Linked DNA regions of Homo sapiens: region 2 is linked to region 1. The links come from fine-mapping of genetic effects on gene expression. Tissue or cell type: whole blood. Region 1 holds a variant in brackets; the other region holds the start of a gene. Each region is shown on its reference strand, or each on the opposite one. Region 1 overlaps ZFPM2 (zinc finger protein, FOG family member 2). Region 2 holds the start of CNN1 (calponin 1).

Region 1 (15,931 bases):
TTTGTTATTCAGCTTTTTTGTAAAAGTTCTGAGAACAGAAAGTCTATCTCTTGCCATGATTATGTGGATTATTGATTAATTAGATGTTTTAAAAGTAATGGAGGCTGGGCACAGTGGCTCACTCTTGTAATCCCAGCACTTTGGGAGGCTGAGGCAGGTGGATCACTTGAGGTCAGGAGTTCGAGACCAGCTTGGCCAAACATGGCGAAACCCATCTTTACTAAAAATACAAAAAAAAATTAGCCAGACATGGTGGCGGGTGCCTGTAGTCCCAGCTACTCGGGAGGCTGAGGCAGGAGAATTGCTTGAACCCAGAAGGCAGAGTCTGCAGTGATCCAAGATCGTGCCATTGCATTCCAGCCTGGGTGACAGAGCAAGACTCCATCTCAAAATAATAAATAAATAAATAAATAAATAAATAAATAAATAAATAAATGGAAAGGTAGGTAGTTTGGTTACATTTAAACTTTATTTCTTAATTGGATATATAAGTTTGCTATTCCTGCCTCAGCAACTCACCACAAACTTTGTGCCTTAAAACAACATAAACTTATTATCTTGCAGTTATGGAAGTCAGAAATCCAAATTGGGTGTCACTGGGCTAAAATCAAGGTGTCTGCAGGTCTGAACTCCTTTTCGGATGCTTTATAGGAGAATCTGTTTTCTTCCTTTTCCAGTTTCTGAGGGCTGCCCGTGGCCCTTCCCTCATAGACCCCCTTCCATCTTCAAAGCCACCAGGGCCTGATGGTGTCTTTCGCACGTCCACATTCCATCTCTGACTCTTCTGCTTCCCTCTTACACATTTAAGGATGCTTATGATTACACTGTGTCTGCCTGGGTCGTCTAAGCTAATTTCTCTATTTTAAGGTCAGCTGATTAACACTCTCAATTCCATTTGCTTCCTTCATTTCTCTTTGCCATGCAAAGGAATGTTCGCAAGTTCTAGAGGTCAGGATGTAAACATCTTTGCAAGGAGCTATTCTGCCTACCACATGGGATAAAAGAAAAACAATAGCTGAAAACCTCTCTTATAATAAGTGATAACACAGGTGATGAAATTTGGGAAGAAAAATGTTTCATATTCCTTAGAGGATCCAGAAATTTTATAAGTATTTATTCCCCTGAAAGTCCTTCTCTCTAAATGCCATTTATGTAGGAACAGTCTTGTGACTTTTAAATGACCCTATCTATGCTAAAGGGACATAAGAACTCCCAGAGGGGTTTCGACAGGTGTACTGGGTTCAGCAACATTACATTCCTTTTTTGATTTATTACATGAAGGAAATCCCTTCTTCAAGTTATTACATGAAAGAAATTGATACATGTGGATCTCCGTTTATTCAGTACCATGTGGATGTGACAGAGGTTGTTGGTTCAACTAAAAGTAATGATTAGAATAAATAGGAAATATTTGTGTTACCAAACTTTTAAAGAGTGCATGAGATCCCAGGGGTATATTTATTACTTTGTACATTCATGTATTTATCCATAAAAGGATGAAGTAGGGGTTTTCACATACATTTAAGGACCAAACAAGTTGACCTTACAGTCCAGACCAAATATTTAATATTCTGGGCAATTTGTTCTAGGTGGACCAGTGCAGCTACTTCAAAAGAGATTTGTGATGTAGCCACAAAATGCAGGCCTCAGTTGATTGAGTTGTATTAACAGATTGTTTTATTGATTCCTTTCAGAGAGCAATATTAACTGTGCCCATTTCTCAAGCTAATGAATGTTAAGAAAGGCAAGAGAAGGATTGTCTAAACATCAAAGATTGAATTAAATGCTATTCTGAACTTATTTTATCTGGGAGTTTCTGTTTGTCTTCTAGCATTGCTTACTAAACATTTTAAACTATATCATATTTATCTTATTTATCACAGTGTATCAGATACCAATGCAACCTTTAATCATTTGTATATTTCTTCAAAAGTGTACTGACACTGTATCAGCTATAGTTGACATGCAAGATGAACATTTTCCAGTTTACTATATTAAAAGGATATATTTACTAAAATGCTATTTTTGATTAATCTTGCTATTACTCTCTGTATGTATACAGAATGGTAGTTTTATGACATTTTTACCATATGCTAAATCGTGATGGATAGAAGATAAACCTGTCTGAGAAAGTTTGATTTTTTTATTTTTCATTGAAATAATTTCTGATTTTAGACAGTTGATGTCATTTTGCTATTTTAATAGTTCTATATGACTGTAAAGCTATTTTATGCCATATTTAATATTTTTAAAAGGCGTTAACTTATATGAAATTTTCAGAATTTTTGATACTATTTAAAACATGACTACTCTTAAGTTTATCAACAATTGGGTAATGGGTGATTATTATTTATAGAAAACAATTTTAATACTTCAGTTTTCTTCTTTTGTCTTAGGCTTTAAATATCAGATTATTTTATTTAGTTAAAATACAGCATTTTTCCTTATTTTAAAATTTAGTTGCCTCACTAAAATATATTTTCAAATGTTTTTCTTTTGAAATAACATCCTCTTCCAAAATTTACTTCTGAGTTTATATCATTAAATACTACTAGTATTATTATTCCTACTACTGTTACTACTGTACATCAAATTGGTTAACATATATGTCTGAAAAATGGAAATAGATTAGCTCATTTAGTCCTCCAAAAAACCTGTGAATTTGGTTCTATCATAAATCATATTTTACAGATAAGAAAATAAAAATTCTCACTTCTGATTCGAGAGTCTGCTTTTTTAAAGACTCTGCCACACTGCATTCTCAGTATAACATCTGTAACATGATTTGAGCATGATAAAATTGTTGATGATTTCTTAACATGAATCATAAATTTATAAAAATCTCTGGGAGGAAGTATGCAAAAATTAGAAATATACCTTTTTTTCCCCGATGGGCAAAATATTTATTATGTAATTAGACTACTTGAGCAGTTAAAAGTTAATTCAAAGACTTCTGGAGTTTTGTTACCTCTCATAATTTGGACAGTACTATAATATGTATTTGAAATCATAAATATTCCTTATAATAAAATATATAGCCTACTACCCCTTCCCTACCCAACCTTGAATCAAATTTGGATTAGCGCACTCTCTTAAATTGCTTATTCGCCAACTGATGTAATGTTACTCTGCTCAAACTCATGGTGTTGGCTCGGGAGATTCAGCTCACTAATTAATCCAACACAGTAATTAATTGAGTCACCATGCCAGATGTCAAATCCTTTTTATATCTTTCAAGTCCCCATCTTCAAGTACATTAGCAATATGCCACCTTCTGCAGGAAGCCTTTGCAGACCAGGCATTTAGATGTATATAGAACATTTTAAAAAACACAGAAACACCAAACAAATTAGTTTGACAAAAAGTTGTTCTTGGAATTATATAACACACTGAACATAGAAATAGAGTATCTTTTGTCCACACCTTATTATCTTGGTAGATACTTCATGCTTTAAAAGTTTTATAATAGCAGCAGCAGCATAGTAAATACTTTCATTGGGCCAGATACTGGTCAAAGTGCTTTACATGTTTTATATCATATTTACTTCTTACACAAGTGCAAGAGAAGATAATATTTATCTCCTTTGTTGCAGAGGCGTAAACTGCTACTTTGGGAAGTTAAATAACTAGCCTAAGGTCAACTCAGTCTGATTCCATAACACATGCTCCAGTCTTAGAAATGTTTTCTGTGATGTGGTAATAATAATACTGCCTAGCTTATAGGAATTTTGGACTAAATGAGATAGCATATGTGAGTTATCCACACATTTCAACTACTTTTACTAGTCAGTAATCTGTGGAAGTGAACCCATTGAAATCTTTCAACTTTAAAGCAAAAAGCACTCTTTAAATTAAACAAGTAACACTATAAACCTTGGCGTTAGGGGATTTTTACATGCCTAAATTTGACTGTTTGCCAAGGGCTCTGTCTTAGGATTCTCCAGAGAAACAGAACAACAGGATGTGTACGTATATAGCCAGAGATTTGTTATAAGGAATTGGCTTGTCCAGTTATGACGGCTGGGAAGTACAAAATCTGCAGTACTCAGTCAGATGAGATACCCGGGAGAGCCAGTGGTGCAGATGAAGTTCGATAGCGGTCTTTGGGATATTTCCTCGTCTGCAGGGAGGCCAGTCTTTTTGGTCTATTCGGGCTTTCAGTTGATTGGGTGAGGCCCATTCATATTTTGGAGGGCAGTCTGTTTTACCCAGAGTTCACTGATTTAAATGTTAATTTCATTCAGAAACGCCCTGTGAGTTGGCAATTAAAATGAACCATCACAGGCTCCGAAGGTCTGCACTACCTTGCAAGTTTCAGTTTTTTGAGGTATGACCTTATACCCCTGAAAAAATTGATACCAGTGAGGGAGCCCAGCTTTCTTTCCAGCATCTCACCTCATATCTCAGAAATAACTTATATTAAATACTATCATGGTAGCACAAACTTGGTGTTTTTGAAAGTTTTGCAGTTTTATTCACTGAAAAAAAATCAAAGGACTACTGATGAGGAAGAAATTTTAAAAATCACCTTAAGTTCTGATCAATATCTGGTTTGGATGTGTTTTAGAACATCTATGTTTATATGTTGTACCTTTGAAGATTTTCCCCATATTCTCCCAAGGACAAAGATCCTTGCAATAAACTAAATCTCAGCTGTGCTAGCACGTGGTAGTGCTTAGCAAGTATCAAGCAACAGTGATTACTTGGAAGGTTGGGTGTCTGAAATTTAAATGGCGTTTGCCCTCTCTTGCTTTTAAATATTATCAACTGTTGATAGCTAACTATTCTGATTGGATTCAGCCAACTGCTGGAATCATACAACATACATAGTTAATTAAATAGAAAGCCCCAGATTACTTACAACATAATAGTAAACTCATCGCAACCTGTTAAATTCAACAAATGAAATTTGACAGAGAAATCTCATTTTATTCTGTTCAATCAGAATAAAATGTATTATTTTCCCACAGGGTATTTGTGATACTGAATTTTTTTTAAAAAAATGAAATATACATATAAAGGGCACTATAGATATTTTGTTGACCTAATAATGAAATAATGCATGTATCAAATTGCATCTTAAAAGTTTTAAGATAGTCATCTTTATAGAAATGTGGTTAAGGAAAAAATTAGAAGTTCCTGATCTACCTGCTTATAATTAGAATTATTAATTGCCTCCATTTATCCCTTTGCAGTTTTATCTTTTCCAGTATTCATCTTTTATCTTAATAATTGCTAGTCTTCAAGCTTCATATTGTACATATCCTGTAGCAAATATATCTCTACCTATGTCTCCAGCATTCACCTCTATAGGCAAAGGCTGCTCAGTGGGCACACCTGTGACTTTTCTACCTGAGCACTTTTTTCCAGCGTTAAGAGCAAACTCCTTGCAAGCTGGGAAAGCTGGAAGTGCTGGAGATTTCCTATTCCCAAAGGTTATCCTCAACCAATGATGGACAGAAAGTTGGTGGACTAACACCTCCGCTTCCCTTCCTCTTGGTTAGGATATAAGATGTGTTCTATATTGTCTGTTAGAGTTTGGCAGTGGAATTGAGCTCTGATTGCCTTGATAGTGAACATTTTGTGGACCTCTTCCCTTTCCTGCTTACTTCGCCACAACCTTACTGGAATTTTCTGGGATCAACTTCCCAGTAAACTACTTGTATTTGAATCAGTCTCAGGGTAAGCCTCTGGGGAATCCATACTAAGACAGCCTCTAAGATGTAATAATGAAATAAATTTAAAAGCAATATCCAAATTATTATTGAGATTCTAGAGGACATAGAATTATTTAATCTTTATTATTCAATTTTGGACCTCTACTACTGGTACATAATCGGTATTCAATAACTGCTCTTTAAAATAAAAATCTAATCGAATTGAATTTGCTTATCAGGAACATTCTCACTGACTCCACCCATATTCTCCATCTTTCCCATCTCAATGGCATAATTTATAATTTTGCTGAGGCATGACTTTTTGTTGAGCCTCAGATTTCATTGATGTTGACATTGTGAATGATATCTTCCTTCTTAATATTCATTTTAATCTGGGCTCAGGACTACCATACTTTCCTATTTCTCATATCTCTCTGGGTCTTAGCTCTTTTTAATTTAACTGTGAGTGTTTCCCAAAACACTTCTGGCCTTTCTTCTCTTCTCCCTCTGTTCCCAGTGCCTCAGGGAGCTTATCCACTTGCAAAGCTTCAGCTACTAATTTACAAATGACATTTAAATAAAAAAATCTCTAACCTTGGCTTTTTACCCTTTCTCTAATAGCACATTTCAACTGTTTTGCAAGCTTTCCCATTTAATTCCTCCAACTACACAGTCACAAAGAGAGTTTATTCCTGTCTCCACAGACAGCCTCTCTTTTCCATGACTTCCAGCTTTCAGTCACCTTTAATCCTAGTCCTCTGCCTCTCCTTTCGTACCTCTGCAGGGAGTCCATTCTCTCAATTATCCTGTGTCTTTTCTGCATTTCTACCTCTCCTTCTCACATCTCAAATGCTATTCACACACAGTTACACATACCCATACCTCTCTCCTTTTGCCTGTAACTACTACCATCTCTTTTTCCTTCTATTCAGAGTCAAACATCTTCCAAGACTCTCCATTTCATGTCCAGAAACCAAGCATCATAACTCCTGCTTTCGTAATGATTGTTCTCCTCTTTCTGTCCTGCTACCACTGCTTTAGTCGAAAGCCCCACCGCTTCTCTCTTGATTATTACAATATTCTTCTGTTCTCTCTTGTCATCTTTTTATTTACTCAGACCACAGTATGTCCTGAAAGCAAAACTACAGTAGTCACTTAACTCCTGTGCTTTAAAATCATTCTAAAGGGCACGAGAATACCCCAAGGTTTTGGTAAAGCCTAAAAAAGGCCTTCCTGTTACTCACCTCCCCAGGTGATGCTCACCTCCCCAGTTCTGACCCCTTTTCCACTCTCTTATAGACTTTAGGCATTCTGAACTACATGCAGTGCCCTGAATGTCCATTTTTTTTCCACATCCGTACATTTGGTCATGCTGTTTTATCCTCCTGGAAACCCCTATTCCCCCCTCCCCACCTATCTCTCTTCATCTCACTAAGTCCAATACTTATTTAAAGACTCTGCTCAAAGTCACTTCCAAGGTAGACCTTCTCTGAAGCCTCCTGTCTGGAATAGATAACCACTCTTGGAGTATTTCCCTGGTGCTCTAGGTTTACTAGGATAAGAGCACTGATCACATAACTGTGAGCTCCTGTTTGCTTGTCTATCTCCCCTGCAGACCATATGCTTATTATCTATTTTTTATCTTTCTATCCTTCCCACTTAGAACAATGTCTAGCTTATACTAAGAGCTCAATGAATAACATTGAATGAATCAGCACATT[A/T]ATTTTTTCCTTTCACTTTTCTCCATATCAGGAACAGCTGCACACCCCTCCTTATTCAAGACCCTGCATCCTTCCTGAGGCTTTACATCCATGTCTGTTTCGTCTGTGATCTTGCTTCATCTGCCTAACTCAGCAGAGCAATTACCACAGGAAATGCTATCTTGTACCTGTTTTATTTGTTTATAGACTTGCACTTTTATTTTAGTCTCGTTTGAGAGGAAACTTCAGTAGGACAAGATAACTATGTCTATTTCTTCAGTTTTTATCTCATAAGGAGATATGCCCATGATGGTTTCTTGAGAAAAGTTGACTAATTTCGGTGTAAGATTTGCAACCCTTGGATGCAGCTAGGAGGATGAGGTGTTGCGCCTAGTGAGGCAATTATGATTTGTTTACAACAGACTCAGTTTTAGATCCCTCACTATGACATGGGTGAAGGCCAAGAAGGTGTTCTGCTCTACCATGCTTTCTGTGAAGTCTCATCCAGCCTCACACGTTCCAGTGACAAACCATCTGGGAAATTCCATCTGTCTCTGCTTGGAAACTGAGGTGGCAGTCGCCCACTGTGAGCAATTTTCTATTAACTTCTTGGATAAGATCAGTCAGATTTATACTGAATTGATGGGAACCGTAAGAGCAAGATTGTTCCAAGAGAAGACAAATGTACTGATTCCTCTAATTGGGCTTAAGCCAGTTTCATTCACAGACGCCCTTAGGTTCTAGTAGTGCAAGGACTTATAACCTTTTTAATTGTACCCTGTTCCTCTTGGGAAACATTGGTGAAATTCATTATTGATGGAGGTTGTAGATTTGTCCCTTAGGGAGGGCAAGATCCTGGCTTCTCTTATACTCTATCTGCTATGTGGAGAATTAATGGAAACTGAGTGGACAGAAAAGCTGCTCAAAGAAGACTTGAAGGCAAGAAATGTAATGCAGCAGAGCCTTGGAAAGTGATGCGTTGGTTTGGTTTCTAGAATTAGGGTAGGGTTTTTGTTGTTTTATTGATTTTTATTTTTATTTATTTTTTTTTTGATGGAGGGGGATTACTCAGGGAAAGAGGAGAAAGAAGTTTGTGTGGAGGCCTCAGTAATCAAAGGCCTGCTATTGAATGTGAGTCAGAAAGGAAGAAATTAAACACCGAAGAATTATTTCACAATTGAAATATGTAGAAGCCAGAGAGGTCAATTGCATATTAATCTGAAGGGATTTGCTGTGTTATAATGCAGATATAGTTATGATGTTGGCAGTGGATGAAAATACATTGTCATATGGCACAATGGTATTGAAATGAAAACCTGAATTTGTGCCCTTCCTGATAATTTTTACTTGCCTCCAAAATAATACCTTTTGTGTATAGCTAGCCTGTTAACCTCAATCTCATCCTGACTTACTTTTTCTCCTGATGGTGAAGTCTTTCCAGGTTCTTTACATTTGGACTTGGATTTGAAAGGTGGAAACACAATTCCTTGCTATACATAGACAATTTTATTTATGGACCTAACTTACTCTCCTCTGCCTGAAATTTTAATACATTTTGGCCTTTGGTTTATATGGCTAAACCTATTTACCCTTAGTTAGGCCAAGTTTGAACTTTTAAAAAGAATTATTTTTACAAGATTATTCATTGTTCCCTTTTCCCAGAACTCCAAGGAGAACTTTTGTTGAAGATGATCTTTTCAGTTATTAGGACGATTAGTGCTATTAATTTAATTAATTTCTGAAAGGAGGAATTGTTTATGTCATCATAAGATGATCAAAGCTGATCCACTCTATGTGTGTAAAGTTGAGACAAATGAGTCACATAACCTTTTCCCACAGAGGATCGGTGTGAAGGATGAAGAATCACTATTGATTTATAGCTCCAGATACTGTTTGTGGGAGTTGTGATTGTTCCCACACATAGGGATCCTTACATGAATTTTCTTAATGCAGATTTCATTGCTACTGTCATTTCTTCGTATTTGCCAAAAACAGAATCATGAAGGCCTAAGGTGGAAGTGGGTGGATATATAGCATCCCTGCCTCTCTAGGGAAATCTATCACCATCTTGACTAGTGAGGAAGTGGTTTGTAAAGCATAACTATTGTTTTTGTAACACAAATTCTAAAATATCAATCTTGAAATGTAGTTTTCCCTGGAGGGGAAGGTAGAAGTAACAAAGCACTGTGAGGAAGAGTTGTTCATGGAGTTGACCAAACTGTCCTCTGTTATGTGCTGATAGGTCTGGCATGCCTTTTAAATTCTTTCTATTTGATGTTTTTGAGGAATTGTCATTCTATACTGATTTCAAAACAATTAGTTTGGCAGGATATGCTTACATGGTTGTAACAAATATTGTGCCAGCATTATGAGGACTTAGCATCAATCTCAGCTTGACATGACAATTAATACATTCAGTAACTTGGAGATGATAACAGAGAGAATGGAGATAGGTACCAGTTTGTACTCCTTCAGTTTGGTCTTAAAAATCAAAATTACTTAGGGATAATGCTTTGTCAAACTCTGATAACATATTGGACTCTGGTTTTAATCTAATTTTCAATAAATATTCCCAGGATGGGATTCACCAAGTTTCATAATTTAACTGTAGCTCTCAGGTGGCATTGACAACCTTTATTATCATATAAGGTTTTCCTAGCATTGGCAAGTTTGTGACTCTTTCCAAGCCACTGCTATAAAGCTCTGTGTTGATGCTGTGTGGTGGTCCAGGGGCAAGTATTCTTGGGTAAATTTCTTTTTTTTTTTTTTTTTTTTTTGAGACGGAGTCTGGCTCTGTCGCCCAGGCTGGAGTGCAATGGTGCGATCTCATCTCACTGCAAGCTCCACCTCCCGGGTTCATGCCATTCTCCTGCCTCAGCTTCCTGAGTAGCTGGGACCACAGGTGCACGCCACCACACCTGGCTAATTTTTTGTATTTTTAGTAGAGATGGGGTTTCACCGTGTTAGCCAGGATGGTCTCGATCTCCTGACCTTGTGATCGCCTGCCTTGGCCTCCCAAAGTGCTGGGATTACAGGCGTGAGCCACCACACCTAGCCTCTTGCATAAATTTCTAATAAGAGAATAATAAAGTAATATTTATTACATACTTTGGAAATTTGAGAAATTATTTGAGAAACTCTCTTGGAGATTAACATATTTTTGCCTGTTAATTTAAATATTGAATTTAAAGTTGTTCTTTTTTTTTGAGACAGAGTTTTGCTGTTGTTCCCCAGGCTGGAGTGCAGTGGCGTGATCTCAGTTCACCACAACCTCCGCCTCCCAGGTTCAAGCAACTCTCCTGCCTCAGCCTCTCGAGTAGCTGGGATTACAGGCATGTATCACTATGCCTGGCTAATTTTATATTTTTAGTAGAGACAGGATTTCTCCATGTTGGTCAGGCTGGTCTCGAAGAACTCCCGACCTCAGGTGATCTGCGTGCCTTGGCCTCCCAAAATGCTGGGATTACAGGCATGAGCCACCGTGCCCAGCCTAAAGTTGTTCTTTATTATTCATTGACTCTTACTTCAATTTTCTCATAAAACCCCTTGTCCCAGCTTGACAAAACTGTGGCTTCTTGATTCTAATAATTTCAGCGTCTTCTGTGCCATTTTGTATCACTTTCTATTTTTTAATGGCAGGAAACCAGACTAAAGCATAGAGTTATGTAGGTTGGTCTGTGGTTTTCTTCTCATACACTTTAGTTCCTTTTCTGATGGTTAAAAATAATGAGCACAACTTGTCGCAGGCATAATGTCTCCCACAAGGCTTCAATCAAGGGGACAGACAGGTCTTGGTGTCATCTGAAGGCTCAGCTAGTGGAGGATCTGCTTACATGCTCACTCAAATGACTCTTGATTCAGTGCTTGGCCTAGTGGGCCTCTACTTAAGGCCACTCACAATATGGCAGCTGGCATCCCTCTGAGCAAGCAGATGAGAGCATAGGACAGGGAGCCCAAGACAAAAGCCACAGTGCTTTGGTAACTTAATCATGGGAGTGGCATCCTATCACTTTTGCTGAATTCTAGGGAAGGGAATTGTGCAGAGCTTGAAACCAGAAGGCTGGGATGACTGGGGGCCAACTCAGAGGCTGTCTGCCACAGAAGGTAATTTGCATAAGTAGTTAACCTGACCTGTGGATAGGGAAGGACTTTCAAATACCAAGAGCCATGGGAGCAATCACAAAAGAAAATTCAGTGAACTTGAATACAGACAACAAAACTGTATGCTATACAGCATCATAACCAAAATCAAAGATTAATAAGTAAAAGACATTTGTGAAAATGAGGTATATTTTATTATTATTCATTAAAATATTTATGGTTTCTCACATCTGTGATCAGTGGCTTCCTGATTAATTTATTTAGATATTAATTTTGCAATAAAGACAAATTAAAATATACAAAACGTGATTTGTACAAAAATTTGGTGGGAATTGGGGATCAAAAGTAGTTTGCTGAGTGTTTCTTCTCCTTTGGTAATTTTGAGAAATATACACCCACACACTGTAAAGATCAAAAGTGGGAGAGAAAGTATGGGAAAGAGCCCGTGATGGGGTCAGAACAGCCTGATTCTAGTCCTGTTATTACTCAAAGTGGATGTGCTATCTTGGGTAATCATACATGCTCTTAGTTTCCTCTTTTATAAAATAGGGGTTATTATACCAGCCCTACAACATAGAATTGTAAAGTTATATAAAATTATACGCATTTAGTCACTTTGAAAAACATACAGATTGTTAAACAAACCTGGATTCCTTTTATTATGCCTGTGAATAGAAAGTAAATGATTCATTCCTTTAATTCCCCAAGCAGTGCATCTAGTCTTTTCTCTTCTGTTCTCTCCCTAAACATACTTTAAAAAGCAGGTTTTGTTGTCATACGAATATAGCTTCATATACGTGTACTCACACGTATCCATACACACACATGCTTACTGATTAGCTGGCATGAATATTCTGAGAACTCATAGCCTAGATAAGTAAACGGTATGGACTTAGTGCATTTATCATCTAAGCAGACAGTCACCATAGAGGAAAAACACATATTTTTAGGAAGAGAAAGAAAGGTTAAGTGGTCAAACTGCCTTTTGAATGATCTTGGCTTCTTTGAGTTTTCTTTTTGTAGGGAGTTATTCTTCAGAAAGCATTTCTCAGGTGTGTGATTGGGGATTTCAGACAATTGGAAAAGTAATTTACCCTGTCTGATTCACTTTTGAGTTAGGTTTGTATTTTAAAATGTTAACTCAATTCTTTCATTATTTATGGCATTTTAGAGCTCCATACAGAATGGAGTGAATAAGGCAGTCATAATGCAGACAGTGATGTACTGTGAAATATGAAGAAATGGGGACAGAGTTTTGGAAGAGCAGAGGCACGTCACGTGCCTTAAGTTTTAGCTTTTATTAAGAAGTCAAACAAATACCATTTGTACCTCATTACCCTATGTGTAATAGTGTAAGCATTACCCCGCAGACAGGAGCAGTAAGAGTCCCTCAGGTTCTGATCCTAATCTCGGATGCGGCATTACCACCTCTCCTCTGAAAGCCACTGCTGCCCAGGCACACGCAGCATATTAGTGCATTTAAAGGTACCCAATTATATCCATGTGTGCATCTGAGATAGGCATCAGGACCCAAGTACATGTTAAATTCAGCTCCTATAGGAAAAAAAAAAATAGCACTTGCCTTTATTAAAGAAGTACAGAAGTGGTGGAAAGAAAATTTGTCCTTTATCTGAATATTTTCAGCAAGAAACCTAGGCAGTGTTATTCTTGGTGCATTTCTTCAAAACTTTGTGAAAATGACAACTCTTCAAAGGAGGCAGACATGTGCACAAGTGTCCCCCCGCCTCTGCTGATATTCCGGGAGGAGAAGGGGTGAGGGAGGAAGAGTGCGTGATGAAAGTCAAACAGTGGTCGGCTCCATTACTTCATTAATCAAGTGGAGGCATTCTGAAAAATGTTTCTCTTTGGTTGCAGCCATCTATTTTTTGGTGTTAATCTGCGCCCTGTGGCAGGGTTTTGTGAAAGGAAACAATGAGCCGTTGTATCACCCCCCTCCCTTTCCCCAATTGTTGTAGCCCCTGTCAGAAGGCTCCGAGGATGATGCAGGTCTGTATCAGCCTGATAAGGGAAAAGAGGATTCAAAATGGCTTTGGAGAGACTCCGTGGGAGTGGAGTGTGCTGTTTTGGACTAGATGAGCTAGGGAATATGGCAGAGGCCCTTAATGGGATCCTAAGGCTTCAGTGCCAAACCTTCTGCTGCTTCTTGAAGATTTTCTAATGAAATATTTTAATGGTAAAATTCTGTGACTGTCATAGGGGCATAGGTTCAAGATGCTGTTTTAAGTCATTTGCTCCATAATCTGTGATTAGTCAATCCAGGTCAAAAAGACAGAAAAAGAAAAAAAATATCCAAACTCAAGAAACCTGTCAGAGTATGTATTAGGTCACTTTTATTCTGTTGACAATGAGTGTTCAATTCACTGTCATCATGAGCTCTGTACAAGTGGCCTGTACATTTTATATACTGTGGGTTCCTATTTTATGGCTAGATGAAATATGAAGCTATCTTTCATAATGCTGATTCCATTTTGGCAGGCCTTTGGATCCACATATGGTTCAGTTAAGCTGTTTTGGAGCCTAATGTACCTTTGTTATTTATTGAGATTTTTGAAAGGGGAATAAGTGGGCTATTTTTACTCTGCATTTAAAAAATACACATTAAATGTTTCAAACATAATTCATACAGCTAAGAAAATTCTAGTGAGCTTTAGAAACGGATCTGCTATTCCTAGGACAGCTAAAATAAAATCATTCCTACCCATGAAGGAAAAAATAAAAAGACAGCTAAAGCTCCAGCAAAATAGAACCACTATCTTACAGCACACGGTAATAATATATACGCAGAGCAATTAGTAAACATGGTCAAGAAAAGTGGGCATCAAGTCAATACACTGTAAAGTTTAAGTATCTTTAAGCTTATAGATGATGCTGAGATTTTTTTTTTAACTATTCCTCCTACTATTGGCCTGGTGTCTTATGAATAAACATAGAGGCACAAAAAATTAAAAACAGTGGTTGTCAGATGAGTGAATGATAGGGAAATACCTCACATACCATGGATAGTCCAGTGCTTATCTAGAAAAACTTAGCTGCTTGGAGGTGATGTTTGCTCCCCACTGCTGAGACCTGATTGGTAGAGGGCAACTCCACCTTCAGATTTAACGTTCTTGTTTTGGTGAGTTTAACTCAGACTCTTAACTATTGGTTAAAATAATGTCTGTGTGAAAATACAAAGAAAGATAGAAGAAAAGTGACACATCCTGTCATATTGGAAGACAACTTTTTGTTTCTAAAAAAGCTTTGATAGGATAGATCTATTTGTATGTATTTGTATATTAATGCTCCTACTTTGTAAAGAGCTTTCAGATTTTTATATGGCCATTTATGTATTTTTATATGGTCATTTATTTTCACTTGAAGTTAATCATTAAGAAGGCTTTTTAGAATGGACCCAAGCAAAACAGTTGGCTATTGTCTGCATGAAAGAGTAGGGATGGTCCCTTTTGGACATGTCACCCTAACTAAATCTCCAGCCATATTGTGTGCCTTCCTATAATGGTTTATTTTGCTCAAGCTTCAGCTATCTTTTATTAGTTTCCTTTATAGTGGTATGTTATTTTTATCATCTTTACAGTCATATGAAAGGGTAGTGGAATAATCATTTCCCTTATTTCATAACTATTCTAACAGTTTTCCTCTGCTGAATCTAGTAGCAAGTAAATGACTATTAAAATGTATTTCTTTCTTTAATGTTTTGTACATACAGCCATAGAAGTCTTGAAGGAAAACTTGACTCAGTATTTATTTAGCATGTTCCATAAGTCAGGAACTCTTCTAAAATGTGGGATACAAAAATCTGAATGCTTCCCACACAGAATTGCTTCATGTAAGAGTATTTAAATAGAACTGAATTCTGTCCATAGCCTTTATGTATATTTTTAAGTAAACCTAACAAACAAAAAGTAGTATTCACATGTGTGCAGGCACACACACATACATGCACATGCATGCTCATATAGAGTAAACAGTTGATTTTTAAGCCAACAAATAAGATAAAAATGAATACATTTGTATGTTTTTCCTATTCTTTATACTCTTAACTTACACAAATAAAATAATCTTATGAAGTAAAGCACACCTCTATTATTGAAAGAAATACACAGATTTAGTCAATATTTTTCTTGTCATAGTTTAGATATTATAAATATTAAGATTGTTTCTAACATTATTTTTCTTATAATTTCATTATTTTACATCATGGAAAAACTGAATTGCAAAATTATCATGAAGATACTTTAAGTACTCTAATAGGTAATATAGAACAAGTGTAGAGCATTTCATCTGTAGGATGAAAAAGTTGTTTACAATTATTGACCACATAGAGCGTTATAAAAAGACCCAATTTAATTAAAGTGGCAAATATGGTGAGGAAACCAAAAAAAAAAAAAAGTGAGAAATGAAAAAAATGCATGCAGTGAAAAGTGCTTCCATATTATTTGATCTTTTGTGAGT
Region 2 (15,931 bases), not on the chromosome of region 1:
AGCAAATCAAGAAAGCTGGTGTAATAGGTCCCGCCCACAACGCGAGGTGGGCCAATAGGAAGGCGGAAGGATCTGGGACCCGCCTCATAACGAGCCAGGCCCAGCCTCTAATGAGGCAAGACGCACTCCAGACCTGGGAACCTTGAAATGGCCCGGGAGGCTGGACTTGGGAGTCATAGTCTATGAATCCAGTCGCAGGCCCCAGCGGCTGAAATGAGAAAATGAATTAAAAAAAAACAAAAAGTGAAAGGGGGCCGGTACGGTGGCTCATGCCTGTAATCCCAGCACTTTGGGAGGCCAGAAGTTCGAGACCAGCCTGGGCAACATAGCGAGACCCCCTTATCTACAAAAAATTTAAAAATTAACTGGGCATGATGGCGCATGCTCATAGTCCCAGCTATTCGGGAGGCTGAAACGGGAGGATCGCTTGAGCCCTGGAGGTCGAGGCTACAGCGAGCCATGATTGCACCCCTGCACTCCAGCCTGGGCAACAGAGTGAGACCCTGTTTCTAAAAATAGTAATAATAAATAAATAGGGCAGGGCGCGGTGGCTCACGCCTGTAATCCCAACACTTTGGGAGGCCGAGGCCTGCGGATCACCTGAGGTCAGGAGTTCGAGACCAGCCTGGCCAACATGATGAAACCCCGTCTCTACTAAAAATACAAAGTTAGCAGGGCATGGTGGTGGGTGCCTGTAATCCCAGCTTCTCGGGAGGTTGAGGCAGGAGAATCGCTTGAACCCGGGAGACGGAGGTTGCAGTGAGCCAGGATAACACCACTGCACTCCAGCCTCAGCAACAGAGCGAGACTCTGTCTCAAAAAATAAATAAATAAATAAAAATTAGTGGGGCGTGGTGGCGTGCTCCTGTGATCCCAGCTACTCGGGAGGCTGAGGCACGAGAATTGCTTGAACCCAGGAGGTGGAGGTTGCAGCGAGCCGATATAGCACCACTGCACTCCAGCCTGGGCGACAGAGTGAGACTCCGTCTCAGTAAATAAATAAATAGGAAGGCCTCAGTGAGGTGTCCTTTGAGTAAAGGCCGGAGGAAGTGAGTGAGCCATCTGGATATCTGGGGAACGCTTTTGGCACTGGGAACAACAGCAAAGACTCTGTGTGGTCGGAGTGGAGTCTTTGGAGGAAATGGGATAAAACGAGGTGAGATTGAGTAATGGGGGCTCCTGGTCTCCCCCAGAAAGCACCAGATTTAGGCTGTTAATAACTAAGGTGGATAAGCACATAAAATGGGCTATTGGCAATAACAGTGTCCCCCGGGAAGGAAGGCTATCTGCCCTCATAAGCCCATTTCTGCAGTCCCTCAGCCTCTGTGGCGCAGTGAGCTGGCATGGAGACTAGGATGCAAGAACCTACCCTTAGGATGCCTCAAGGACTCTGCGCAGCCGCAGGACATCCACCTCATCAGAACTCTTGTGATTGGGCAATCTGAGAAAACCTGTAGCCAATCAGCTGCTTGGCTGGAGCACTCCTCTCTGGCAAGTTGACAGGCACGTGGGCAGCGGCTGGGAGCGCTACTGCCCTCTGCCAGGCTCCCGCAGCTACAAGCAAGCAGAGTCAGCTCTGCTTAGCTGGGGAGTGGGTAAGATGATGGGGTCGCTGACCTGGCTGTGGCCTTCAGAGTTATTGGTGTCCTTCTCTTGAGGTGGTCATGGCTTTTGTTTTCTTATTTATCCTTCCAGAACTAGTCTTTTAATATTTTATTTTATTTTATTTTATTTTATTTTTGGAGACGGAGTCTGGCTCTGTCGCCCAGGTTGCAGTGCAGTGGTGCAATCTCAGCTAATTGCAACCTCCGCTTCCCACATTCAAGCAATTCTCCTGCCTCAGCCTCCCGAGTAGCTGGGACTACAGGCGCATGCCACCATACCCGGCTAATTTTTGTATTTTTAGTAGAGATGGAGTTTCACCATGTTGCCTAGGCTGGTCTCCAACTCCTGGGCTCAAGCAGTCCTCCCGCTTCAGCCTCCCAAAGTGTCAGAATTACAGGCATTAGCCACCGTGCCCAGTCATTATTATTATTTATTTATTTATTTATTTTTTGAGACAGAGTCTTGCTCTGTCGCCCAGGCTGGAGTGCAGTGGCACGATCTCGGCTCACTGCAAACTCCGCCTCCTGGGCTCACGCCATTCTCCTGCCTCAGCCTCCCCAGTTGCTGGGACTGCAGGCGCCCGCCACCATGCCCAGCTAATTTTTTTGTATTTTTAGTAGAGACGGGGTTTCACTGTGTTCTCCAGGATGGTCTGATCTCCTGACCCCGTGATCTGCCAGCCTCGGCCTCCCAAAATGCTGGGATTACAGGCATGAGCCACCATGCCCGGCCTATTATTATTATTTTAAAATAGAGATGGGATCTTAATATGTTACCAAGGCTTGTCTCAAACTCCTGGGGTACTGCGATCCACCCATCTTGGCCTCCTAAAGTGCTGGGATTATAGGCATGTGCCACCACACCAGGCCAGTAGTCTTTTAAAAACAAGTAGGTACAGGCCGTGCGCGGTGGCTCACGCCTGTAATCCCACCACTTTGGGAAGCCGAGGCGGGTGGATCACGAGGTCAGGAGATCAAGACCATCCAGCCTAACAAGGTGAAATCCAGTCTCTACTAAAAAAAATACAAAAAATTAGCCAGGCGTGGTGGTGGGCGCCTGTAGTCCCAGCTACTCGGGAGGCTGAGGCAGGAGAATGGTGTGAACCCGGGAGGCGGAGCTTGCAGTGAGCCGAGACTGCACCACTGCACTCCAGCCTGGGCGACAGAGCAAGACTCCATCTCAAAAAAACAAACAGACAAACAACAACAAAAAAACCAAGAATGTACATATTTTATGTACTGTATGTATTAACACAGAACACCATATGTGAGGCCCTGGTGCAGAATCTTTAACATTACAGTCCCAGAAAGAACCCTATAAAAAGTAGTAGCTTCACAGTGAAAGATCCTAGCAGACACCACCTTAACCAAGGGACCAACATTTATATCACCAGCAATGAGTCATGGTGATATCATGAAGCCCTTGGTATGACACACTTAGAAGGATACATCATCACCTCTCTGGTATTCTTCCTGGTAATGCAAACACCTCAGTTTATTCAAGACAAACCAAACTCGAAGACAGTCTACAAAATAACTGACCAGCACTCTTCAAAAGTGTCAAGGTCCTGAAAGACCCAGGGACTATTATAGACTGTAGGAATGTATGGAGATATGACAATTAAATGCAATGAGGGCCAGGCACAGTGGCACTGTAGTTCTAGCTATTTAGGAGGCTGAGGCAGGAGGATCACTTGAACCCAGGAGTTCAAGTCCAGCCTGGGCATCATAGTGAGACCTCATCTCTAAGATAGATAGATAGATAGATAGATAGATAGATAGATAGACAGACAGACAGACAGACAGACAGACAGACAGAAAGAAAGAAACGCAATGGGCCGGATGCGGTGGCTCACACCTGTAATCCCAGCACTTTGGGAGGCCGAGGCAGACAGATCACAAGGTCAGGAGTTCAAGACCAGCCTGACCAACATGGTGAAACCCCCTGCCTCAGCCTCCCATGTAGCTGGGATTATAGGCTCCCACCATTACGCCCAGCTAATTTTTGTAGTTTTTGTAGAGATGGGGTTTTACCATGTTGGCCAGGGTGGTCTTGAACTCCTGACCTCAGGTGATTCACCCGCCTCAGCCTCCCAAAGTGTTGGGATTACAGGCGTGAGTCACTGCACCCAGCTGGAGTCCCCACTCTTAACCACAGCGCTACAGTGTCTTCATTTAGTTGAAACAACATGCTATATGTTTTAACTTCAACTTTGTCTATCTCCCTTGTCCCAGGTTGATGGGATTTATAGTGATTTATTATGACAAGGCCACTGCAATAAATGTTCCTGTACATATGTCATTCTTCACACCTACACTTGTACTTCTGAGGAATATTCTAAAATAGAGGATATACTTGTTCAGAAGGTAAGGACATTTGTCATTTGGGAAACTATCAACAAATTGCCCACACTCATCAACAATGTTCCCACAGCCTCCTCTGCGTTACATGTTGTCAAGCATTCTTTTATTTATTTATTTATTTATTTATTTATTTATTTATTTTTTTGAGACAGAGTCTCGCTCTGTCGCCCAGGCTGGAATGCAGTGGCACGATCTCAGCTCACTGCAAGCTCTGCCCCACAGCTTGACGCCATTCTCCTGCCTCAGCCTCCCAAGTAGCTGGGACTACAGGCGCCCGCCACCACGCCCGGCTAATTTTTTGTATTTTTAGTAGAGACAGGGTTTCACCATGTTGGCCAGGATGGTCTCGATCTCCTGACCTCGTGATCCGCCTGCCTTGGCCTCCCAAAGTGCTGGGATTACAGGCGTGAGCCACCACACCCGGCCGTCAAGCATTCTTTTCTTTTCTTATTTATTTATTTTTCACCCAAACTAAAATGCAATGGCATGGCTGGACACAGTGGCTCATGCCTGTAATCCCAGCACTTTGGGAGGCCAAGGCAAGCAGATTACCTGAGGTCAGTAGTTCGAGACCAGTCTGGCCAACATGGTGAAACCCCATCTCTACTAAAAATACAAAAATTAGCCCGGTATGGTGGTGGGCACCTGTAATCCCAGCTACTCAGGAGGCTGAGGCAGGATAATTGCTTGAACCTGGGAGGTGGAAGTTGCAGTGAGCTGAGATCATGCCACTGTACTCCGGCCTGGGTGACAGAGTGAGATTCTGTAAAAAAAAAAAAAAAAAAAAAAATAAGCAGTGTCATGATCATAGCTCACTGTAGCCTCCAACTCCTGGGCTCAAGCAATCCTCCTGCCTTGCCCTCCCAAAATGCACTTTTTTAAAAAGCTCTCTCTCTTTTTTTTTTTTTTGTAGAGGCAGGGCCCTGCCATGTCTCCCAGGCTGGTCTTGAACTGCTGGCCTCAAACAATCTGCCCATCTTGGCCTCCCAAAGTGCTGGAATTACAGACACGAGCCACTGCACCCAGACTATAAGTGAACAGCTCCCTCCCTGTCCACCCACTCACAGTCAGTCTGGGGGTGAGAGATGCTATTATTTTACAGCAGGTGGTCAGGGAAGGCCTCTCTGAGAGGTGATATTAGAGCAGAGACTGAATGAAGTTGGGGAGAGGCCATGCAGGCATCTTGCAGAAATGTGTTCCAGGTGGCAGGAACTGCTATTGTAAAGACCCTGAGGTGGGAACATGTTTGGGGACTCAAGAAACACATCTGTAGCCCAGCGTGGTAGCGGGTGCCTGTAATCCCAGCTACTTGGGAGGCTGAGGCTCCAGAATTGCTTGAAACCAGGAGGTGGAGGTTGCAGTGAACCGAGATCATGCCACTCCAACCTGAGCGACAGAGCGATACTCTGACTCAAAAAAAAAAAAAAAAGGAGAAGAAGAAGAAGAAATAAGGAGAAGGGAGAAGAGAGAAGGGAGAAGGGGAAGAAGGAGAAGGAGGAGGAGAAGGAAGAAAGAAGAAAGAAGAAGAAGGAGGAGGAGGAGAAGCAGCAGCAGAAGAAGAGGAAGAAGAAGGAGAACAAGAAGAAAAAGAGGAAGAGGAAGAAGAAGAGGAAGAAGAAGGAGAAGGAGAAGGAGCAGCAGCAGCAGCGGAAGAGGAAGAGGAAGAAAAGAAAGAAGAAAGAAGAAAGAAGGAGAAGGAGAAGGAGAAGAAAGAAGAAAGAAGAAAGAAGAAGAAGAAGAAGAGGGAGAAGAAGAAGAAGAAACAGCACATCTGGAGGGACTTGGAAGAAAAGGTACAAACAGTGTTACCTGGGAGGGTGGCTTGGCTTCTCTGAACCTTGAGTTTCCCATCTATAAAATGGACCTATGAGTTTCTACCCTCAGAAGGTGATGGTGAGGATTAAAAGAGATTGTGGCTGGCATGGAGTGAGTGTTCCCATAACAGAAGCCTTTAGGAACAAGAGCCTCTGCCAGATTTCTGGATAGGAAAGCTTCGTGAGGAGGGAGCTTGCAGAGCAGGATGCCAAGATAGGCCGGTGCAGAGCAGGGCTTTGACTTTCCCCAAAACACACAGACAAACACGTGTGAGTGTGGGTTTTATTTTTATTTTTACATTTTTTGAGTCAGAGTCTCACTCCCGTGGCCCAGGCTGGAGTGCAGTGGTGTGATCTTGGCTCACTGCAACCTCTGCCTGACATGCCGGGTTCAAGCAATTCTCCTGCCTCAGCCTCCCGAGTAGCTGGGATTACAGGCATGTACCACCATGCCCGGCTAATTTTGTATTTTTAGTAGACACGGGGTTTCACCATGTTGGTCAGGCTGGTCTTGAACTACTGACCTCAGGTGATCCACCCGCCTTGGCCTCTCAAAGTGCTGGGATTACAGGCGTGAGAAACCACGCCCGGCCAAGTGTGAGTTTTAAATGGTTCTGAGCATCAGGAAGGTTTTAGGGGGTCCCCTGAAGTTGAGGAGAGGCATGGCTTTCCTACAATGACTGTCCTAGACCCTTCGGGAAACCGTGCCTCTTACAAGATCCTACACTTCTCATTTAGATGGTAAACTGAGGCACAGAGGGGCTAGAGCCTGGAAAATGCCAGAAAGGAGCGAATAAGGGATGACACTCGGGTGTCTACTGGGATTGGGGCCTCGATATGGGATCAGCCCCCTCTAATGCCTCTACCCCCATCTACCAGACAGAGACGCGAAGAGAGACGGACAATACAGCGACAGCGACATGAAGAGAAACAGAATGACTCAAAGACCAGGCACAGAAACAGAGACACAGAGACAAAGGCAGAGACAGAAAAAGGCTCAGCGACCCAGAGACGGAGATACAGAGACACAGACCTACTACAATCAGAGGGACAAGGCAGTCCCCGAAAGGGCTGCCCCCTGGGGGTACCCGGGGCTGCCCCGTTGGGGGGCACGCCAAGAGCTCCCCCACCCCGCCCCCGTCGTGCCTGGGCCGTGACTTCAGAGTCCGTGCAGATTCTATAAATGGCCAAGAGGCCGCGGGCCGGGGGGCGGGGCCGAGTGAGTCATCGCGTGACGTCACCGCCGCCTGGACCTCGCCAGGTCCCGCCCCCGCCCCTCCCGGGCCGCCAGGGGGCGCCGGCTGCAGGTCCTCACATGCGCAGTAGCGAACTGCGGCCCCCGAGGGCCGCTCAGTTTGGGAGGGATCCAGGAATCTGCGCGTTCGAATCCCGCCCCTGCCACCCTCGAGCTGTGTGACCCGGCCATTCGGCGTCACCTCTCTGTGCCTCGTATAGACCCACCTCATAAGGCTGTCGTGAGGAATGAGTTAACAGGCTCAAAGCTCTTAGTACGTAGCAGGTGCTAATTGTTAGCTCATTTTATGTACTTTCTATTTTTTCTTTTTTTTTTTTTTAAATAGAGACGGGGTCTCGCTATGTTGCCTAAGCTGGTCTCGGGTCTCGAACTCCAGGGCTCAAGCGATCCTCCCGCCTTGGCCTCGTATTTTATGTATTTTCGTGTATGTTCAACATATCATGACATGCCATCAACTAGCACATTGCCTTAGCTCAGTGGTTGGCAAACAGGGGTGATCTGCTTCCACCCCGACCCCAATCATGGGACATTGGCAATGTGTGTAGACATTTCTTCTTTTAATTTTTCTTTTTTAGAGACCATGGTCTTGCTATCTTGGCCAGATGGTTCTCAAACTCCTGGGCTCAAGGGATCCTCCCACCTCAGCCTCCTTAGTAGCTGGGACTACAGGGTCCTGCCGCAGTGCCTCAACATTTCTGTTTATTAGGACTAAGAGAGTGCTACTGGCATGTAGCAGGTAGAGGCCAGGCATGCTGCTTGAAGTCTTACAATGAATGCCCAAGGCAGCCCCCCAACCATGAAGAATTATCCAGCCTCAGCTGTCAACAGTGTGGAGGTTGAGAAACCCCACCTTAGCCTCATAGTTGAGGTTCATGGAGCATGGTCTCAAATTCTCCTCTGCCCCTGGCCTGCTGTGTGACGCTGAAAAAGTGATTCCAAGCCCCCGTGCCTCAGTTTCCCCACCTGTAAAGCAAAGTACTTGTATTAATAATAACAGTGTCAGCTGGGCACGGTGGCTCACGCCTGTAATCCCAGCACTTTGCAAGGCCGAGGTGGGCAGATCAACTGAGGTCAGGAGTTCGAGACCAGCCTGGCTAACATGGCAAAACCCCGTCTCTACTAAAAATACAAAAAATAGCCAGTCGTGGTGGCAGACACCTGTCATCCCAGCTACTTGGGAGGCTGAGGCAGGAGAATCGCTTGAACCCAGGAGGTGGAGGTTGCAGTGAGCCGAGATAGCATCACTGCACTCCAGCCTGGGGAATAGAGACTCTGTCTCCAAATAATAATAATAATAATAATAATAATAATAATAACAGTGTCCATCTCTGAGGGCGTCATGAGAATTGAATGGATATATGTACAGAGTTGGAACATGGCCTGACATAAGGGCTGTAGTCTGTGGCATATTGCAGCCATGCCATTAGCATGTGACCGATAAACTGCATATCCTCAACATATCATTAGTGTGTGGCAGGTTGCAGACATGTCATCCAAGTGTCACAAACATGGCCTTGCCATGTGGGGCATGATGTGGGCATAGCATCCACCCCTGTGGTCCAGGGGTGAGATCTGGCTGGGTAGGGCTGTTTGACAGGGACACAGTTCACGGCCTGGGACTTGCCAACAAAGTCACCCTGTAGTTCAGGTGACACACAAGTGGATGGGGAGGGTGAGACCCAGGATCTCTTCTCCCCCAGGTCCTTATGAGGGGCTGGAGGAGACAGAACTGGGGTGCTGGACCCTCAGCATAAAGAATGCTATAGGCTGGGCATGGTGACTCATGCCTGTAAATCCCAGCGTTTTGGGAGGCCAAGGCGGGCAGATTGCTTGAGCCCAGAAATTTGAGACCAGCCTGGGCAACATAGCGAGACCCCGGGCAACATAGCGAGACCCCATCTCTAAAAAAATAAAATAAAATTAGCCAGGTTGGTGGCACAAGTCTGCAATTCTAACTACTTGGATGGGCTGAGATGGGAGGATCACTTGAGCCTGGGAGGTCAAGGCTGCAGTGAGCTGTGATTGTGCCACTGCACTCCAGCCGAGGGGACAGAGTGAAACCTTGCCTTAAAAAGACTGCTATGGCCCGAGTCCCTCTGCTGTGCCGGGCACTGTGCTGGGCATGTAACAGGCATATTCTTCTGATCTTTACAACTCTCCCATGAGGCAGGCACTATCGTTAGCCCATTTTACAGATGTGGCCATAGAGGCCCAGAGAGGAGAAGGGGCTTACCTAAGGCTATAGACTGTTGGTATCTGGAGATAAACCCGGGATGGTGCTCACTAAACTACCTTGGGTGTCAGTCCTGCTTCAAGACTCCAGAGAGATAAAGAGAGATGACCTCAGAGACAAAGAGACTCAGACCCAGCCAGAGGCCCAATGGACAGTGGGAGGGGTGGGTGGAAGAAGGCTGGTCTCTGTCTGACCAAGCCCCCCCAGAATAACGCAGGCTGCCCCCCTAGGTGGAAACAATGACACAATCAGCTCCCAATACCAAGGGCCTGACATCACAAGGGGAGGGGAAGGCAGCTGAGGTTGTGGGGGGAGGTGCCCCGCCCCTTGGCAGGCCCCTACAGCCAATGGAACGGCCCTGGAAGAGACCCGGGTCGCCTCCGGAGCTTCAAAAACATGTGAGGAGGGAAGAGTGTGCAGACGGAACTTCAGCCGCTGCCTCTGTTCTCAGCGTCAGTGCCGCCACTGCCCCCGCCAGAGCCCACCGGCCAGCATGTCCTCTGCTCACTTCAACCGAGGCCCTGCCTACGGGCTGTCAGCCGAGGTTAAGAACAAGGTAGGGCTGGAGGGCCTCCCTGGCCTGGCCCACACGTCCTGCCAGGCCAGAGCCCTGAGCTTGGGGTCCCTTGAACCCCCTCCTGCCTATCCTATGTGACTTGGAAACTGAGAGGGGAAAAGGGAGTGATATGGGATAGGGGCTGCCTGTCTCCCCCTGAACATCCCGGAGCCCCCAGCTATGGTTGGGGCTGGAATGGGGGGGCACACAGCCACACATAAACAGAGGGGGTCAGTCCATTGCAAAGATACCCACCTGATCAGTCTTCTGTTAACCCTTCGTGTTCTTGGGGGGAACAACATAGGGGGAAGACTTGTTGATTTTTCCATATCCCCCGGCCTGACAAAGAAATTGGGGAGCGCTTGAGTGCTGGGGTACCTGGGAAGTGACGCCGTGAAAGTGTGGGAGATCCTGAAGACAGAGGGGGACGGTGAAAGGCAGGAAGCGGGCATCAGAAGTGCGGCAGGGGTCTCCTGACTGTGGAGCTAGGAAGATACCTGGACACCACCTTCATGCTATGGTTGGGTAAACTGAGGTTCGGAGAGGAGAGGCAAATAGCTGGGGTCCCAGGTAAAGCAGGTACAGCGCTCGGACCCTGGACTCACCCCCCATACACCAGGATGGGCTCAGCTTCTCCCAGCTGGAGAACTTTAAGTTTCCAGCCCACTGGAATCGCCCCAACAGTATTGCCGAGGGAGGAGTTCCTGCCCCATTTGACAGAGGGGAACACTGAGGCTCAGGGTGGCTTTTCCCAGGGTCCCATGGTGAGGAAGTGGGGGACTGGGTTGGAACCTGGGTCGAGGGATCTCGGGGCTGGAGGAGGGGGCTGGTGGGGGGCGGGTCCTCGGGCGAGAGACAGATCCCAGCGCCGCCCTCCTCCCCCCCAGCGCCGGCCCCAGAGCCGCGCAGAGCCGCGCAGAGACGCCGCGCCTTATAAGGCGGCCTCGGGGAGCCCGGGCCACGCTATATAAGGGCCGGTTTGCTTTATAAAGCCGGGCTGGTGGCGTGGGGGGCGGCAGGGCCAGGGCCAGGTGAGGGGGCCGCCCCTCCCACCTCCCCCCACTCACCCGGGAGAAGAAGAGGCAGCCCGGTCCCCTAGGGGCTGGGAGCCTGGCTGGGCTTGGGCGGAGGGTTCTGGAGAAATGGGAGTGGAGTGGGGGAGGGGGGGGACAGTGGAGAGAGGGAAAAGCAGGGAGGTGGGGGGAGAGGCAGACAGAGATACTGGGAGCCTGAGACACCCTAGGGACAGACGGGGGAGGGCGAGCCAGGAGCGAGATAAGACCTAGACAAGGATGGAGGGGCAGGGAGAGGAGACAGAGCCCCACCACCCCCACCCCAGGCAGGAAACCTGGAGACAGAGAAAGACCTAGAGAGGCAGATATACAAGACCCAGGAGCCCTACCCCTGGCCAGACAGGGACTAGCCACCTAGAGAGATGGGGACCCAAGACTGGGCCAAGAAAAGACAGCGCTGGGGAAGAGAGAGACAGAGGAGTCGGGGGGATAAGAGGGAGAGAGACATACAGACGTGCAAGGGGTGGGGGCTAAGACAGAGACAAGCCCCCACCACTAACCAGAGACAGAGCCCTGGAGCTGAAGACCTGGGGGACACGGAGAGACAGAGATGTATGACCAGCACTCCTCTGCAAGCCAGCACCCAGGGACACCTCCTTAGACATCCTTCTTCCCTTCCTGAGGTGCCCTCTCTTCCAACAGGGGGCACAGAGGGGGCAGGGCTAGAGGAAGAGAAGCCCCAAGTTTGGCCTGGGCGAAAAACCAGGGTGCCGGGTGCCACCCCTCTAGCTCAGAGGATCCAGCTCCCCACACCCCACCCCTCATCTACATTCCCTGGTGCCAAACCTCAGAATGCCCGGAATGGCCCCCTGGGCAGGTGCCACCTCAGCCCTGGCTCTCAGCCCGCCCCAGCCCCCATCCCCCAACTATGGATCTGGGGCAAAATTGCCTTAGTTGGGAAGGACGAGGGAGATCAGGCTCTAGGAAGTTCAGACAGGACCCAGGGAGCCCAGGCTGCCCCCAATGCATCCTCACCCCTTTCTCTGTGCCCCCTGCCCTCCCCTCGCCCCAGCTGGCCCAGAAGTATGACCACCAGCGGGAGCAGGAGCTGAGAGAGTGGATCGAGGGGGTGACAGGCCGTCGCATCGGCAACAACTTCATGGACGGCCTCAAAGATGGCATCATTCTTTGCGAGTGAGTGAGGCTCTCGAAGCCGAGACCCTGCAACATCCCCCAACTCCATGCAGCCCCTCAACCCCCAAAACAACCATGATCCTGGAACTGAGTTGAACACTTTCTATTGGATACCTTTGGGGTGGCCAGTAATCATTGTGCCCATTTAACAGGCACAGAAAACTGAGGCTCAGGTGAAATGCATTGCACCAAGTCCCACGTGGTTTCAAGGGAAATGACTCTAGAATCTTAACCACCATGCTATATAGGGTAGGCCCATCTGTGGCCGCCAGAGTCCCCAGAAAGAGCGGTCACAGCTAAAAGGCAGCAGCCAACAGCTGTTCATGGCTGGCTTGGTGATGTGAGGAGAGATGTGCAGCAATAATTAAAGGAGGCCCTGGTTTTCTTTCTGTTTTCTTTTTGTTTTTTTGAGATACAGTCTTGTTCTGTTGCCCAGGCTGCAGTGCAGAGACACAATCTCGGCTCACTGCAACCTCCGCCTCCAGGGTTTAAGTGATTCTCCTGCCTCAGCCTCCCCAATAGCTGGGATTACAGGCACGCACCACCATGCCTGGCTAATTTTTGTATTTTTTTAAAGTAGAGATGGGGTTTCACCATGTTGGCCAGGATGGTTACGAACTCCTGACCTCAATTGATCCACCTACCTCAGCCTCCCAAAGTGCTGGGATTACAGGCACGTGCCACCATGCCCGGTTAATTTTTGTTTTTTTTTTTTTTTTTTCAGTAGAGATGGAGTTTCACCATGTTGACTAGGCTGGTCTTGAACTCCTGACTTCAAGTGATCCACCTGCCTTGGCCTCCCAAAGTGCTGGGATTGCAGGCACATGCCACCACGCCTGGCTAATTTTTGTATTTTTTTTTTTTTTTTTTAGTAGAGACAGTGTTTCACCATGTTGACCGGGCTGGTCTCAAACTCCTGACCTCAAGTGATCCACCTGCCTCGGCCTCCCAAATTGCTGGGATTACAGGCATGAGCCACCTCGCCCGACCTTCTTCTTCTTCTTCTTTTTTTTGAGATGGAGTCTTCCTCTGTCACCCGGGCTGGAGTGCAGTGACATGATCTCAGCTCACTGCAACCTCTGCTTTCCGGGTTCAAGTGATTCTTGTGTCTCAGCCTCCTGAGCAGCTGGGATTACAGGTGCCCACCACCTTGCCCGGATAACTTTTGTATTTTTAGTAGAGACGGGATTTTGCCATGTTGGCCTGGCTGGTCTCGAACTCCTGACCTCAAGTGATCCACCCGCCTTAGTCTCACAAAGTGCTGGCATTACAGGCATGAACCACTGCACCCTGCCGGCCCTGGTTTTCTCCTCGCCTCAAAACCTCATTGCTGAGGGAGGTGAAAACCCTAACAGCTCCCAAGCCCCAGTTCCACTGCAATCTTTTTTTTTTTTTTCAGATGGAATCTTGCTTTGTGACCCAGGCTGGAGTGCAGTGGCATGATCTTGGCTCACTGCAAGCTCTGCCTCCCAGGTTCAAGCAATTCTCCTGCCTCAGCCTCCTGAGTAGCTGGGATTACAGGTGCCCGCCACCACGCCCAGCTAATTTTTGTATTTTTAGTAGAGACGGGGTTTCACCATGTTGGTCAGGCTGGTCTCGAACCCCTGACCTTGTGATCCACCCACCTCGGCCTCCCAAAGTGCTGGGATTATAGGCGTGAGCCACCGCGCCCGGCTCCACTGCAATCTTAATGCATAGCAGGGCCCTAAACCCAGCCTGCGCCCGATCTGCATTTGAGTCTGACCCAGGGCAGAGTGACTGTGAGTGGCCTCGGGAAGACTTTGAAGGTGCAGCTTCATCAAGTCCTAGATGCTGGGAAGAAGGGGTGTGGGGGGTGTTTACCTTGTTCCATTCCCATCCACTAGGAACAAGGAATTGGCAGGTGGGGAGGTAGGCATGCTGGTGTCCCAGCTCAGGCAGAGGACTGCTCAGACGTCAAACAGTGCAGTCCCAGCCTGGGCAACATAGCCAGATTCCATCTCTACAAAACATTTTTGTTTTAATTAGCTTGGCATGGTGGCATGCGCCTGTGGTCCCAGCTACTCGGAAGGCTGAGGTGGGAGGATCGCTTGAGCCCTGGAGGTCAAGGCTGCAGTGAGCTATGATCGCGCCACTGCACTCCAGCCTGGGCAACAGTGAAACCCTGTCTCAAAAAAAAAAAAACTAATGTAAACGACAAGTTGATGGGTGCAGCAAACCAACATGGCACATGTATACCTATGTATCAAACCTGCACGTTGTGCATGTGTACCCTAGAACTTAAAGTATAATAATAATAATAATAATAATAATAAAAGAGTGGGCCGGGCGCGGTGACTCACGTCTGTAATCCCAGCACTTTGGGAGGCTGAGGCAGGCGGATCACGAGGTCAGGAGATCAAGACCATCCTGGCTAACACGGTGAAACCCTGTCTCTACTAAAAAAAATACAAAAAATTAGCCGGGCGTGGTGGCAGGCGCTTGTAGTCCCAGCTACTCGGGAGGCTGAGGCAGGAGAATAGCGTGAACCCGGGAGGCGGAGCTTGCAGTGAGCCGAGATCCCACCACTGCACTCCAGCTTGGGTGACAGAGCGAGACTCCGTCTCAAAAAAAAAAAAAAAAAAAAAGACCTAATGTAAATGACGAGTTGATGGGTGCAGCAAACCAAAATGGCACATGTATACCTATGTATCAAACCTGCACATAGTGCACATGTACCCCAGAAGTTAAAGTATAAGAAAAAAAAAAAGAGTGTAGTGCAGTCACCCACGCACTCCGGTCATTCACTCATTCATTCATTCATTCATTCACAAAAGAAGCATTTATGAGTTCCTGCTGTGTGCCAGGCTCTGGCCTAGGCACTGGGAACAGTGAACAGAACAGACTCGACTCAGAGCTCAAGGACTTTTAGTCCAGTTGAGGAGATCAATCATATAATTGATCAAATAATCACAGATTTGTGGTCGTAAGTGTCCTGGGGAAAACTCAAGCGGAAGGGAAGATGGGAGGGTCAGGTATATGTCTGCGGGTGGAGAGTCTGCAGTTTCCTAGAGAGTGGTCTGGGAGGCCTCTCTGAAGAGGTGACATTTGAACAGAACCTTAGATGAAGTGAGGGAGGGCTCAGGGGACCTGAGGCAAAGCAGAGGGGGCCACCAGTGCAAAGGCGTGAGGTAGGATCGTGCTTGGGGTGTTCAAGAAACAAGAAGGAGGCTGGCGTGACGAGCACCAAATGATTGAGCAGAAGTGGAGATGAAGTCGCAGAGTGAACTGAGAGTCAGATGGTGGAGGGCATTTTATTTCATTTATTTATTTAGAGACAGAGTCTTGCTCTGGTGCCCGGGCTGGAGTACAGCGGTGCAATCATAGCTCACTACAGCCTCGACTTCCTAGGCTCAACTGATCCTCCCACCCCAGCCTCTTCAGCCCCAGCCTCCTCAGTAGCTGGAACTACAGGCACACATCACCACGCCCGGTGAAGTTTTCGGGTTTTTTTTTTTTTTTTTTTTGTAGAGACACGGGTCTCACCATGTTGCCCAGGCTGATCTGAAACTCCTAGGCTCAAGCCATCCTCCTGTCTCGGCTTCCCAAAGCACTGGGATTACAGGTGTGAGCCACTGTGCCCAGTTCTACAGAGGGCATTTTAGGCAGAGGACTTAGGATTTCATTCTGAAGGCAATGGGAGGCTCCTGGAGGATTTGGAACTGGACGGTAACTTGAACTGTTTAAAAAAGGCCATTCTGGGCCAGGGGCAGTGGCTCATGCCTGTAATCCCAGCACTTTGGGAGGCTGAGGTGGGCATATCACTTGAGGTCAGGAGTTCGAAACCAACCTGACCAACATGGTGAAACCGCGTCTCTACTAAAAATACACAAAATTTAGCTGGGCATGGTAGCAGGCACCTGTAATCCCAACTACTTAG

What was found. PIP is the estimated chance that this variant, and not a neighbour inherited with it, causes the effect.
Region 2: CNN1 starts here. The variant in region 1 is the best candidate, but not a certain one, in a credible set for the expression of CNN1 in whole blood (TOPMed, PIP 0.61).

Annotation. Positions count from the first base shown.
Region 1 is chr8:105,561,922-105,577,852 of GRCh38, forward strand. The region is part of intron 4 of ZFPM2 (zinc finger protein, FOG family member 2); the gene reads left to right. Among named protein-coding and RNA genes, the nearest start is that of ZFPM2, 250 kb to the left of the region's middle. The variant A/T (reference allele first, on the strand shown) is at 7,379.
Region 2 is chr19:11,529,165-11,545,095 of GRCh38, forward strand. It overlaps CNN1 (calponin 1), which reads left to right and starts at 9,687. Exons shown (of 7, transcript NM_001299.6): 1 at 9,687-9,826; 2 at 11,912-12,033. The coding sequence starts at 9,764. RefSeq lists silencers at 6,785-6,854, 6,865-7,234, 10,663-10,712 and enhancers at 8,658-9,603, 12,377-12,496.